2 separate regions of the Homo sapiens genome follow, and region 2 is linked to region 1. Evidence: fine-mapped expression QTL. Tissue or cell type: hypothalamus. Region 1 holds a variant in brackets; the other region holds the start of a gene. All regions are shown on one strand. Distances are from middle to middle. Region 1 overlaps LINC01018 (long intergenic non-protein coding RNA 1018). Region 2 holds the start of NSUN2 (NOP2/Sun RNA methyltransferase 2).

Region 1 (5,380 bases):
TGCAAGATGCAGGTGTGGATACTTAATTTTAATTATGTTTTGAATAGTTAAACACTGAGTTCAATATTTGAGAGATTCAGCTCTGTGAAATGCTCCCTCCCACCCCCTTGCCCAGCCCCATCCTCTGTGGGCAGCCAGCAGTAACAGTTTCCTGTCCATCCCTCGAGATATTCTGTGCAGATAGGTAGATATGATTTTCCCCTGTTAAACATTTTTTTTTTTTGAGACAGGTTGTCACTCTGTCACCCAGGCTGGAGTGCAGTGGCATGATCTTGGCTCACTGCAACCTCCACCTCCCAAGTTCAAGTGATTATCCTGCCTCAGCCTCCCCAGTAACTGGGATTACAGGTATGCACCACCACACCCAGCTAATTTTTGTATTTTTCATAGACATGGGGTTTCACCATGTTGGCCAGTCTGCTCTCAAACTCCTGACCTCAAATGATCTGCCTGCATTGGCCTCCCAAAGTGCTGATATAGGCATGAGCCACCTTGCCCAGCCGTGTTACACAAATATTGACATCTATTCAGAATGTTTTGTTCCTAGGATTTGTTTTTGTTTAATCACAGGTCTGACAGATCATTTCCTATCAGTACATAAGGAGGTCATTCTTTCCAGAGTGGCAGAGGGTCCCTTGTTTATCCAGACCCCTGTGAATACATATGTGGATTACTTCCAATCCTTTGTTATTACCTACAAAGCCTGCAATGATAACGCTGTACCTTTCATTTCAAATATTGCACACGTGTGTGCGTTAGAATAAATTCCTAGGAGTCGTATTTATTGGTCAAGGAGTATGTGTGTTTTAAATTATGATAGGTATTAGGTATGTCAATATATCAAAAAAACACAGTTCATGGCAAGACACAGAAAATAGGGGAACAGGGAAACTTTCTACATTTGATATTTATAAAAGGAATAACCTGTCAAGAACACATGACAGCACTTAATCTTAAAGCACCTTACAACAATCACCACAAACACAAAATAATTCAAAAAGAACTTAAGCACCTTACAACCACCACCACAAATACAAAATAATTCAGAAAGAACTTAAACAAGCACCATACAACAATCACCACAAACACAAAATAATTCAAAAAGAAATAAGCACCTTGCAACAATCACCACAAACACAAAATAATTCAAAAAGAACTTAAATAAGCACCTTGTGACAATCACCACAAACACAAAATAATTCAAAAAGAACTTAAGCACCTTCCAACAATCACCACAAACAGCAAATAATTCAAAAAGAACTTAAACAAGCACCATACAACAATCACCACAAACACAAAATAATTCAAAAAGAACTTAAGCACCTTACAACAATCACCACAAATACAAAATAATTCAAAAAGAACTTAAACAAGCACCTTACAAGAACCACCACAGATACAAAATAATTCAAAAAGAACTTAAACAAGCACCTTACAAGAACCACCACAAATACCAAATAATTCAAAAAGAACTTAAACAAGCACCTTACAACAATCACCACAGATACAAAATAATTCAAAAAGGACATATAAAAGCACCTTACAACAATAACCAAAAAATACAAAATAATTCAAAAAGAACTTAAAAAAGCACCTTACAACAATCACCACAAATACAAAATAATTCAAAAAGGACATATAAAAGCACCTTACAACAATAACCAAAAAATACAAAATAATTCAAAAAGAACTTAAAAAAGCACCTTACAGAAATAATCAAAAATAAAAAATAATTCAAGAAGAATTTAAGCACCTTATAACAATCACCACAAATACAAAATAATTCAAAAAGAACTTAAACAAGCACCTTACAACAATAACCAAAATGCAAAATAATTCAAAAAGAACTTAAACAAGCACCTTACAACAATCACCACAAATACAAAATAATTCAAAAAGAGCTTAAACAAGCACCTTACAACAATAACCAAAAAATACTAAATAATTCAAAAAGAACTTAAAAAAGCACCTTACAACAATAAACAAAAAATACTAAATAATTCAAAAAGAACTTAAAAAAGCACATTAGAACAAAATATTGGGTAAAGCAAAAACTGTTACCAATATAATAAGAAATAGACAAATCTACGGTTATATAAAAAATTTTTAATACTAGCATCTAACAGAAATTGACAAAATACAGGGATTTGAATATCAATTAACGAGCTTGAGTAAACACAGAATAGTGTGATAGAACACATGGTACAGGTGATCAATAACTCAAAAGCATATTCTTTTGAGAAGACCAATAAAATAAGACAAATATATGTTAATTGCTCAAGGAAAACAGAAAGAGAGAAGGTCATTACACTAATGGAGACTCTTACGCTTGCAAGAACATACTAAGTCCACTTGCACACCAATGGATTTGAAAATATACATGAAGTAGAAATAGCCAAGTAGGCACAAGTTAGCAGCATTGTTCCAAGAAGAGAAAAGCCTGAGTAGGAATAATATTCATAGAAAAATGGAAAAGGCATTTGGAGATCTACCCATTTTCATACCCTTTAGCCCCAAGAAAAGAGGCACTAGGCCAGGGAGGTTTCCAGGTAAGTGTTACCACATTTTCAAGAAAGATCTATTTTCTGTGTTAAACTCATTCTATAGAAAAAGCTGGAAATTTCCGCCTGCCATTCTGTGATGCTAGCATATCCAGGAGACTCACGGTAGATGAAGGTACCCACAGAGGAAACACTAACACTCTTACCATCGCCGACATAAATAGGCCTCATAAAACATCAGTGGCACAAATCGAGCAGTGATTAAAAAAATGAGCCTGTCACGATGCATTCATGAAACATAAGGAAGTATACTCTCATATAATGACATGCTTATACATTTATTAATCATTTGTATGATAAAATATATATGAATTTACATCTTTAATATGACATAAGGAATTATAAGGAATATTATGAAGTTAAAGAATAAAATATAATTATTGATACACTAAAATCCAAGATTCATTCCTTATTTTAAAAAATAACAATAAACAAGAGTAAAAGGAAACTTATTTAATTTGATAAGGCGTATGTACCAGAAATCCTGTATCAAGCATCATACTAACGGTAAAATATTTTGTTTTAATTGTTAACATTTTAAATGTATTTAAAAATAGAGAGGGTTTCTCCATGTTGGCCAGGCTGGTCTTGAACTCCTGGCTTCAAGTGATCTGCCCACCTCGGCCTCCCAAAGTGCTGGAATTACAGGCATGAACCATTATGCCTGGCCTTAACGCTAAAATCCTAAAAACAGAAACAAGGTAA[C/T]AGATGTTGCTGTCAACATTCCACATCTGAGGTGCAGCCTTGGGAAGATGAGACTAACACTGCCCCTATTTGCACTTCATATAATTATCTATGTAAGAAAATAAACTGAAAAGGCATAAAAGCTCACAATAGCTTAATAATTTTTTAAAGATGAAAGACATTATAAGAATTTTTTTAAAAAGTGACACACTGGGACAAAGTATTTGCTGTGTATGTTAGACACCCCACATCCATAATATGTAAATAGCTTCTGCAAATCAATAAGAAAAAGATGAGTCATTTGAGAGAAAATTTGGCAAAGGAGTAATTTGCAAAAAAAAGAAAAGGACATACAAATGGCCGATAAACAGCTCCACTTATACTAAAAACTAAAAAATGATAATATGAATGAATTTAAATTTTTACTCTTCAAAGTGGTACAAGTTTAAGGAGTAGAGACATTCAGCTAAGAGGATGCTACAGGGATATGGGTACTTTTGGAATAGCTGGGTCTTCTTGCAAGGTGGGCTTTCCATGTGCTTCTGATCCAGAGAGGTGGTGGTGTTTGTGTTTGACGAAGCTGCTGACACTGCTGTGCTGACATCTGGCGAAGTGAAGGTCTGAGTACAGAGAAGGTGGCTACTCTAAGACTTCCACCGCAGTAGTTGCAAAAAGCCAGCAAATCAGATGGATGATGACCTTCACTTACAGCAGCTGGTCCTCCCATGGTGCTGCTGGACAATGGCCAAGTTCATCCCTGGTCATGGCTGTGCTGGCTGTGACGTCTCCAGAGGTGGCAATCATGGCAGAATCCTTCATTAGCGCGAGATGCACAAAGAATCAGAACAAAAACTGCAACTATGTTCTTAAGCATCACCGGAAAGTCCGAGACCACGTTTTTTGCCTGTACTCTTTCACCGGCTGAAATTAATTCTTAGGACAACATCATCTGCTTGTTATAAACTCAGGCAAGAGGGTGGCATCACACCTTTTCTGCATCATGCTGTATATTGACTTGCTTGTTTTGTTTACTGTCTGCCTCCTTCCCTTTTGAAAGCAAGCTCCATGAGGACAGGGAAGTTCGTCTCCATTCCCAGTGTTGGCCTCAGTAAGTGTTTGTTGAATGAATGTTGGTGAACAAATAAATCCCCAGCCTCTGGTGTTCTGTGCAATCCCAGACTCTCCAGGGGAAGCACTGAATTACTGGTCCCTGCCACAGGAGACTTCTCTGCTGTGCTGATCGGGGTTGCAGTTTGGAAGGAAGGAGGTGGGACCAGCGCTCTGGCCATCCATGCAGGAGGTGTGTAGGGGTCTTTGATTTGCCTCCCTCCCCACACTTATCACGGGACTCAGGGAAGGGCTTTTGACCAACCTGCCGGGGACACCTGTGTAACCAGAGTAGCTAACTCTGATTCAGGCAATGCTCATTCACCGTCTTCTACCTGAGCCACAGCTCCCCTCTTGGAGCCCCTTTTTTTTCTTGGCCAACATTTGTCAAGGGCTTAGTGTCTCAGTTCAACATGGAAACACGCTCCCTGGTGGCATCATGACCTGACTCGTCTTCCATGAAGAAGCTGAGGTGCAGGCAGAGGGGCTTGCTGGGGGATGGAGCTGGGGTTAGCTGCTAGGCTGGGCTGGGACGGGAGCCTGGCCAGGCTGGTTGTGATGCTGGCTGGTGGCAAGGAAGGAGGAAGTGTTCGTGCACCCAGCAGATGTGAATCCATCTTACCTGGTGAATACAATGTCTCTAAGATGCCAGCATGAGATCGCACTCAGTGCTCTGAGGGACAGAGCCTTGTCCTAAGGGAGCCGCAGTCCTTAAGGGAGCTAACCAAGCTGAGGCGCTGCCTGGGGAGGGAGGGTAGAGTAGAAGAGCAAGGCTGAGTGCCAGGGAGGAGGAGGGAGGGGGTGGAAGAGAAGACACGGGTCTGCCTGAGGGTTGGGGCCAGATCTGAGGGACAGGGAGGACTGGGTAGCAAGCCGGGGGCGGAACACCCACTACCCGCAGCCCTAGCCCCACTCCGCTAAGTCTACACTAGGACACTCACCTGCTTTAACACTGCACACCTGTGGATGTCTTAGAGGCACTTTTCATGCTGTTGACATGTGAGGAACCTGGGGCTCAGGATGGGCGC
Region 2 (5,380 bases), 45 kb before region 1:
CATGCTGTGCCTCCGTGTTCTACTCTGTATGAATGAGCTGTTCAAGTTCTATCATTCAAGGTGACTCTGGCCCTTTGGGAGGCTGCATTCATTTTTCTGCTTGAGTGAATGTAGGTACAATGAAACATGATGTCTCAAGTTAAAAAGCTTCCACTTGGGATGTCAGGCAAAACTTTGTCAAGTGTTCCCTTGATTTCCAACACCACAGTTTTGCTGGCACATGAGGCTGGCAGCAGTGCACATGAATGACACACAGAGTACATGTCTGGATGTGCATTCACAGCAATGCAAAATAGTGCTAGGTATTGTGTACTGAGCACGCAGATGCGCCAGCACCATGCAAGCATTTTAGGGAGTTGCCTTTGCTCTAAATTCATGTGATCCCACAGGGGGGTTCCATCACCATGCCCATTCTACAGGTGGGGAAACCTTGCTGCGGGGCAGCTTAGTAACTCATCCAGGGTCATGACTGATGGGACTAGGATAGCACCGAATACTCTGACCTGAGATTGCTTTTAGCCATAAAGAAACAGACATACAGCTTCTGGTATATTTATGGAAAAGTATATACAAACAGCAAAGTCTGACTAATATTCAAATTGTAGCAATGGTTGATCCCATTCCAAAAAAAAAATAAAGCAATGGTAAAGAGTTTCAGGCACACAGTACTCACTAAGCCTCTGATGAATGTTGACTTGCCCTTGTTTAAAGTGCAAGTCATCAAAGCACACTGAGGACACAGACTGCACCAGTTACAGGGTAAGGTGCTGGTTTTCAGGGAACTCAGGTACCAAAAACTGTGCTGGGTACAACACTGGTTCCAAGTAGTGGAGCTGTGTACTTTCTCTTCGCTGGAATGCATGACACCAGGAGAAAGAAGAGAGGCTTATAAACACACACTGAGTTCTTCCTGTCTCTCTGGGAAGTGAGTGTTTTAAGGTGGGACCCCAAATCAGAAAGGTTGGGTAAACTGCCCATAGTCACACAGCCAGTGAGTTCAACTTCCTTGGGTGTAGAGACATCCTTTTTAACTGTGAAGCTTTCCAGAGCCTGAATGAAAACGTTTAAAATTTAATTTTGAACTTTCGACCTGTCGTTTGCTTTGGCTGTGTAAAAGCCAAAAGATACGACCTGGAGAGAACCCCAACTTATTAGAAGGCTTGAAGATTTCAGACACAGCCAGTTTTCAAATATTCAAAAAAACAAAAACCTTGAAAGATTTAGAAGTCATCTTTAAGACTTCGTTTGTTTAAGGTTTAAGGTTGCTGGCTTTCCACCCCCACAATCCTGGGGTCCCTTGCATAAGGTGGACATGAAAGTCTCTGAAAGTGATCAAGCCTATAAGGAGAAACTGCTAGGCAGTTTTAGGACAGCAGGTTTCCAGTTGCAGCTGATCACTTGGCTGGGAGAAAACAGCTCCACCATCACCAAAGATACCAAAAGGGGAACCGGCAGAAAGGAGTAGAAACCAGTGGCCCTCAAGACCGACCATCAGCATTAGACTCTAGGCCAACCCCCTCCCCCCCGCCCCCACAGTCGTGATCTAAGGGAACAAAATCTAGTCTTCATTTTTATTTTACATTTTTACTTTTTAACTCTTTATTTTTATATATTTAATTTTGAGACAGAGTCTCGCTCTGTCACCCAGGCTGGAGGGCAGTGGCGAGATCTCGGCTCACTGTAACCTCCGCCTCTCGGGTTCAAGCGATTCTTCCATCTCAGACTCCCGAGTAACTGGGATCACAGACAGGCGCCACCGCGCCCGGCTAAGGAAACCAAACCTAGGACCACTGAGTGGCTCTTTCCAGATCAGTTTCATCATGTTTTTTTCCATCACTCCCTTCCAGTCCTTTGTTTCCCGCCCTTTCCAGACGAATCCCTTCTGGTTTCCAAACTCCCGGGGCCGGGGGACTCGGGGAAGGGCACCCGTGCAGATGGGGGACGCCCCGGGGGATCTGGCAGGGAGAGGGCATCTGGGTGGGGGAGGCTTCGGGGAGAGGGCACCGGGCAGTGAGGGGAGGGTCGGAGAGGACGCCGGGCCGGGAGTAGGGTAGGGGGCCGGGGGCCGGGGACGTTACCGATGCCCGTAGTGGACGAGGAACATGGCCAGGAGGATGCAGTTGGGCGCGCTGCGGAGACGCGGGGCGGACTCGCTGGCGTACTGGTAGAGCGGCAGGGCCAGCGAGGGCAGCTCCTGCACCACCCAGGCGGCCCGCGCCGGCACTCGGAGCCTGTGGCTGGGCAGCGCGTGGCGGCCGTACACTGAGTTCGTCTGACGATTGCGCGCGAAGACCGCGCAGCCCACGGCGCACTGCAGGTAGGCGAGCGCGGCCAGCAGGCGCTCCTCCGCCACCCCCGTCGCCGTTGCCATCGCCAGGGCTGGGCAGCGTGCTCCATGCCCCAGAGGCCGCGGCGGGCAACATATAGGGCGGCGGCGCGGGGGCAGGAGGGGCGGCTACCGGAGGGGCGGCTACCGGAGTCCCGCACTGCCGGGACTCTGCAGAAAGGGTTCTCAAGTCAGGCTTCTCCGGGGTAGCCGGGGCTGTGGGTGCGGCCCCGGGGGCGGGGCGAGCACTTGCGCGGGGAGGGACCTGCAAGCGCCCCACCCACGCCGGGGCCGCAGTAACCCCGCGCCGCTCTGCGCACGCGCGGCTTCAGGCTGTCCGCGGAGCTCCTTGAGCCCGCGTGGGAAACCTGGGCGCTTCGCGCGGAGACGCCTTTGTGGCTGCTTCCTGGAGCATTTTTTTCCCCTTAGAGCTGTTCGCTGTTTTCCCTGTCACGCCGCTTTTCTGAAAGACGGGTTGTGCGCTTTGGGCTTATTCCTGGACGGTCCCCAAAGGTCCCCGAAAGGACCAGGCCCGGACACGTGGGGCCTTGGTTTCCGGCCGGAAGTCCCGGGAGGTGTAGGGCTAGAGTTCTGGCCGTGGCGGGCCGGTTTCTGCGTGCTGCGTGCGCGGCCGCGTGGGCTATGGGGCGGCGGTCGCGGGGTCGGCGGCTCCAGCAACAGCAGCGGCCGGAGGACGCGGAGGATGGCGCCGAGGGTGGTGGAAAGCGCGGCGAGGCGGTAGGAGCCGGGACCCGGCGGGCGGGCCAGGGGCTCCTCCTGGGCTTCCCGGACCCCGAGGCCTGCGAGGCGGCGGCGAGGGGGCGGCTCCTTGGGCCTCGGGGTAGACGTCTCTTTCCTTCCTCAGGGCTGGGAAGGAGGCTACCCCGAGATCGTCAAGGAGAACAAGCTGTTCGAGCACTACTACCAGGAGCTCAAGATCGTGCCCGAGGGCGAGTGGGGCCAGTTCATGGACGCTCTCAGGGAGCCGCTCCCGGCCACTTTAAGAATTACTGGTTACAAAAGGTAGGGAGGCAGTGCCTGATTTTTTGGGAGTTGGGGCCAGGATGCTGGAGGTTAAAGGCGACGGTGTTTTCTTCGACAAGTGTTACAGTGCCAGAGAACCGTGGCGTTTCAGCGGTTTGGATTCAGGAAGCATTGAGGTGGGGAGCACAGGGTCCAATGAAATGGTCACGGAGGTATTGCAGGCGCAAGGTTAGAAGACGAAATGAAAATGAGATCTGAGGAAGATTCGGCTCCTGGGGAATCTTCCAGGAGGGAAGCTGAGGGTCTTACCTTTTGGAACGTAAGAGAATTTATAGAGAATGCATAAAACCCCTTGGTTCTCCCCTCCTCCGCGCCCCCCCTCCATCTTTGTAGTTACATCTTTCTAAATGAGTCGCAAGTAAAACTTAACGGTAGGATATGCTTAGGAGAGAAGGAATGCAGTGTTGCTCTTAGGGCTCAAACAGTGTGGATTGCTTAAATTTTGAAGGCATACAGTGTAAAAGTAGTGACTAAAGAATGTTTACTCTCCATGCAAAAGTTGGTTTTAGTTTTAAAACACTTGCAGTCTTAAATTTAAGAAGATACAATGTATTAACTTAGTTTTTTAGATCAGTTTGAAACTTCCTTATTTTTCAATAGCCACGCAAAAGAGATTCTCCATTGCTTAAAGAACAAATATTTTAAGGAATTGGAGGACCTGGAGGTGGACGGTCAGAAAGTTGAAGTTCCACAGCCACTGAGTTGGTAGGTACCACAGTGCTTCATGCCGAATATTTATTTGGGATATTAATCTCTATCACTTGAATTATATTTCTTGGTACTGCATTTGCTGTTAAAGAGCTTGGGTATACTTTGCAAACATCCTAATGTTCTAGTACCTGGTGCTTTTATCAACATTATATTGCTACGCAAGTTTTCATGCGATTTGCGATTTGCAGCTTTATGAGTCACTGATTTCAGCCAGCTCTTCCTAGTACATCCAGCCTCTTCCTTTATGTCACCACTTCCGCCAGCTCCCTTTTACAGCCCTTGTTTTCTCACATCAAAACTGTTGCAGAGTGGCTGCTTTGCCTTCAGAAAAAGGACAGACTTAGCTTGACAACAGTCTCCTGGTAGGTAGTCTCTTAGTGTTTTCCATTACAGACAGGTTACCACTGTCTGCTGTCAGGTTGTCTCCTGGTACTTCGCAGTACAGACTGCACCAGCCAATGTAGCATTTCCGAGTCTCAGCACCCAAGCGTGCTACTACTCTGGGAGCTACCTCTTTCTTGACCTGTCCTGGAGGTGCCTTCTGGGTTACCTATTCCTCATGGCTCGGTTCTAGTCTCAGTTGTATGAAGGTGATCCCTTGTGCTGATAGCATCTTGTAAAGATGCTTGGAGAACTCCGGAGGCGCCAGTCCTTCAGTTAACTTACATAAGTGGGAAAGTCGTTATTATTAACTTTGAGGTATTGAGTTCTCAGAAAAGTAATGCACGAAAAGGTGAATTAAGCCGTTTTTTGTTTGTCTGTTTGTTTGTTTGGAGACGGAGTCTCACTCTGTCGCCCAGGCTGGAGAGCAGTGGCACCATCTTGGCTCACTGCAAGCTCCACCTCCCTGGTTCACGCCATTCTCTTGTCTCAGCCTCCCGAGTAGCTGGGACTACAGGTGCCCGCCACCACGCCCGGCCAATTTTTTTGTATTTTTAGTGGAGACGGGTTTTTACCTTGCTAGCCAGGATGGTCTCATCTCCTGACCTCATGATCCGCCCACCTCGGCCTCCCAAAGTGCTGGGATTACAGGCGTGAGCCACTGCGCCCTGCCAAATTAAGCGTTTTGCATCAACTTTTGAGGTTTTGACTATTCCAGTACGTAGTGTTATCTTTCCTTTTTGGATAACCTTTAGTGTTCGCAAATCAAGGTCAGATTTTCATTAATCATGGGGTACAGATTTGCTTGTTTTTCTTTCATTGGCTATTTGGATTTTCATTGTCCCTATCACAGATAAGCATATACATTCACAATGAATGCTGACTGGCCAAACATTAAGTCAGTATTCAACCAGTATC

What was found. PIP is the estimated chance that this variant, and not a neighbour inherited with it, causes the effect.
Region 2: it holds the start of NSUN2, and the variant in region 1 is fine-mapped to the expression of NSUN2 in hypothalamus (GTEx, PIP above 0.99).

The regions. Positions count from the first base shown.
Region 1 is chr5:6,585,941-6,591,320 of GRCh38, reverse strand. It overlaps LINC01018 (long intergenic non-protein coding RNA 1018), which reads right to left. Exons shown (of 5, transcript NR_024423.2): 4 at 5,294-5,380; 5 at 2,821-5,093. Among named protein-coding and RNA genes, the nearest start is that of LINC01018, 6.5 kb to the right of the region's middle. The variant C/T (reference allele first, on the strand shown) is at 3,267.
Region 2 is chr5:6,630,568-6,635,947 of GRCh38, reverse strand. NSUN2 (NOP2/Sun RNA methyltransferase 2) reads left to right here and starts at 2,904. Exons shown (of 19, transcript NM_017755.6): 1 at 2,904-3,064; 2 at 3,192-3,349; 3 at 3,971-4,075. The coding sequence starts at 2,969. SRD5A1 (steroid 5 alpha-reductase 1) reads right to left here and starts at 2,508. Exons shown (of 5, transcript NM_001047.4): 1 at 2,079-2,508. The coding sequence starts at 2,371. RefSeq lists enhancers at 1,785-2,296, 2,297-2,808 and a silencer at 2,272-2,661.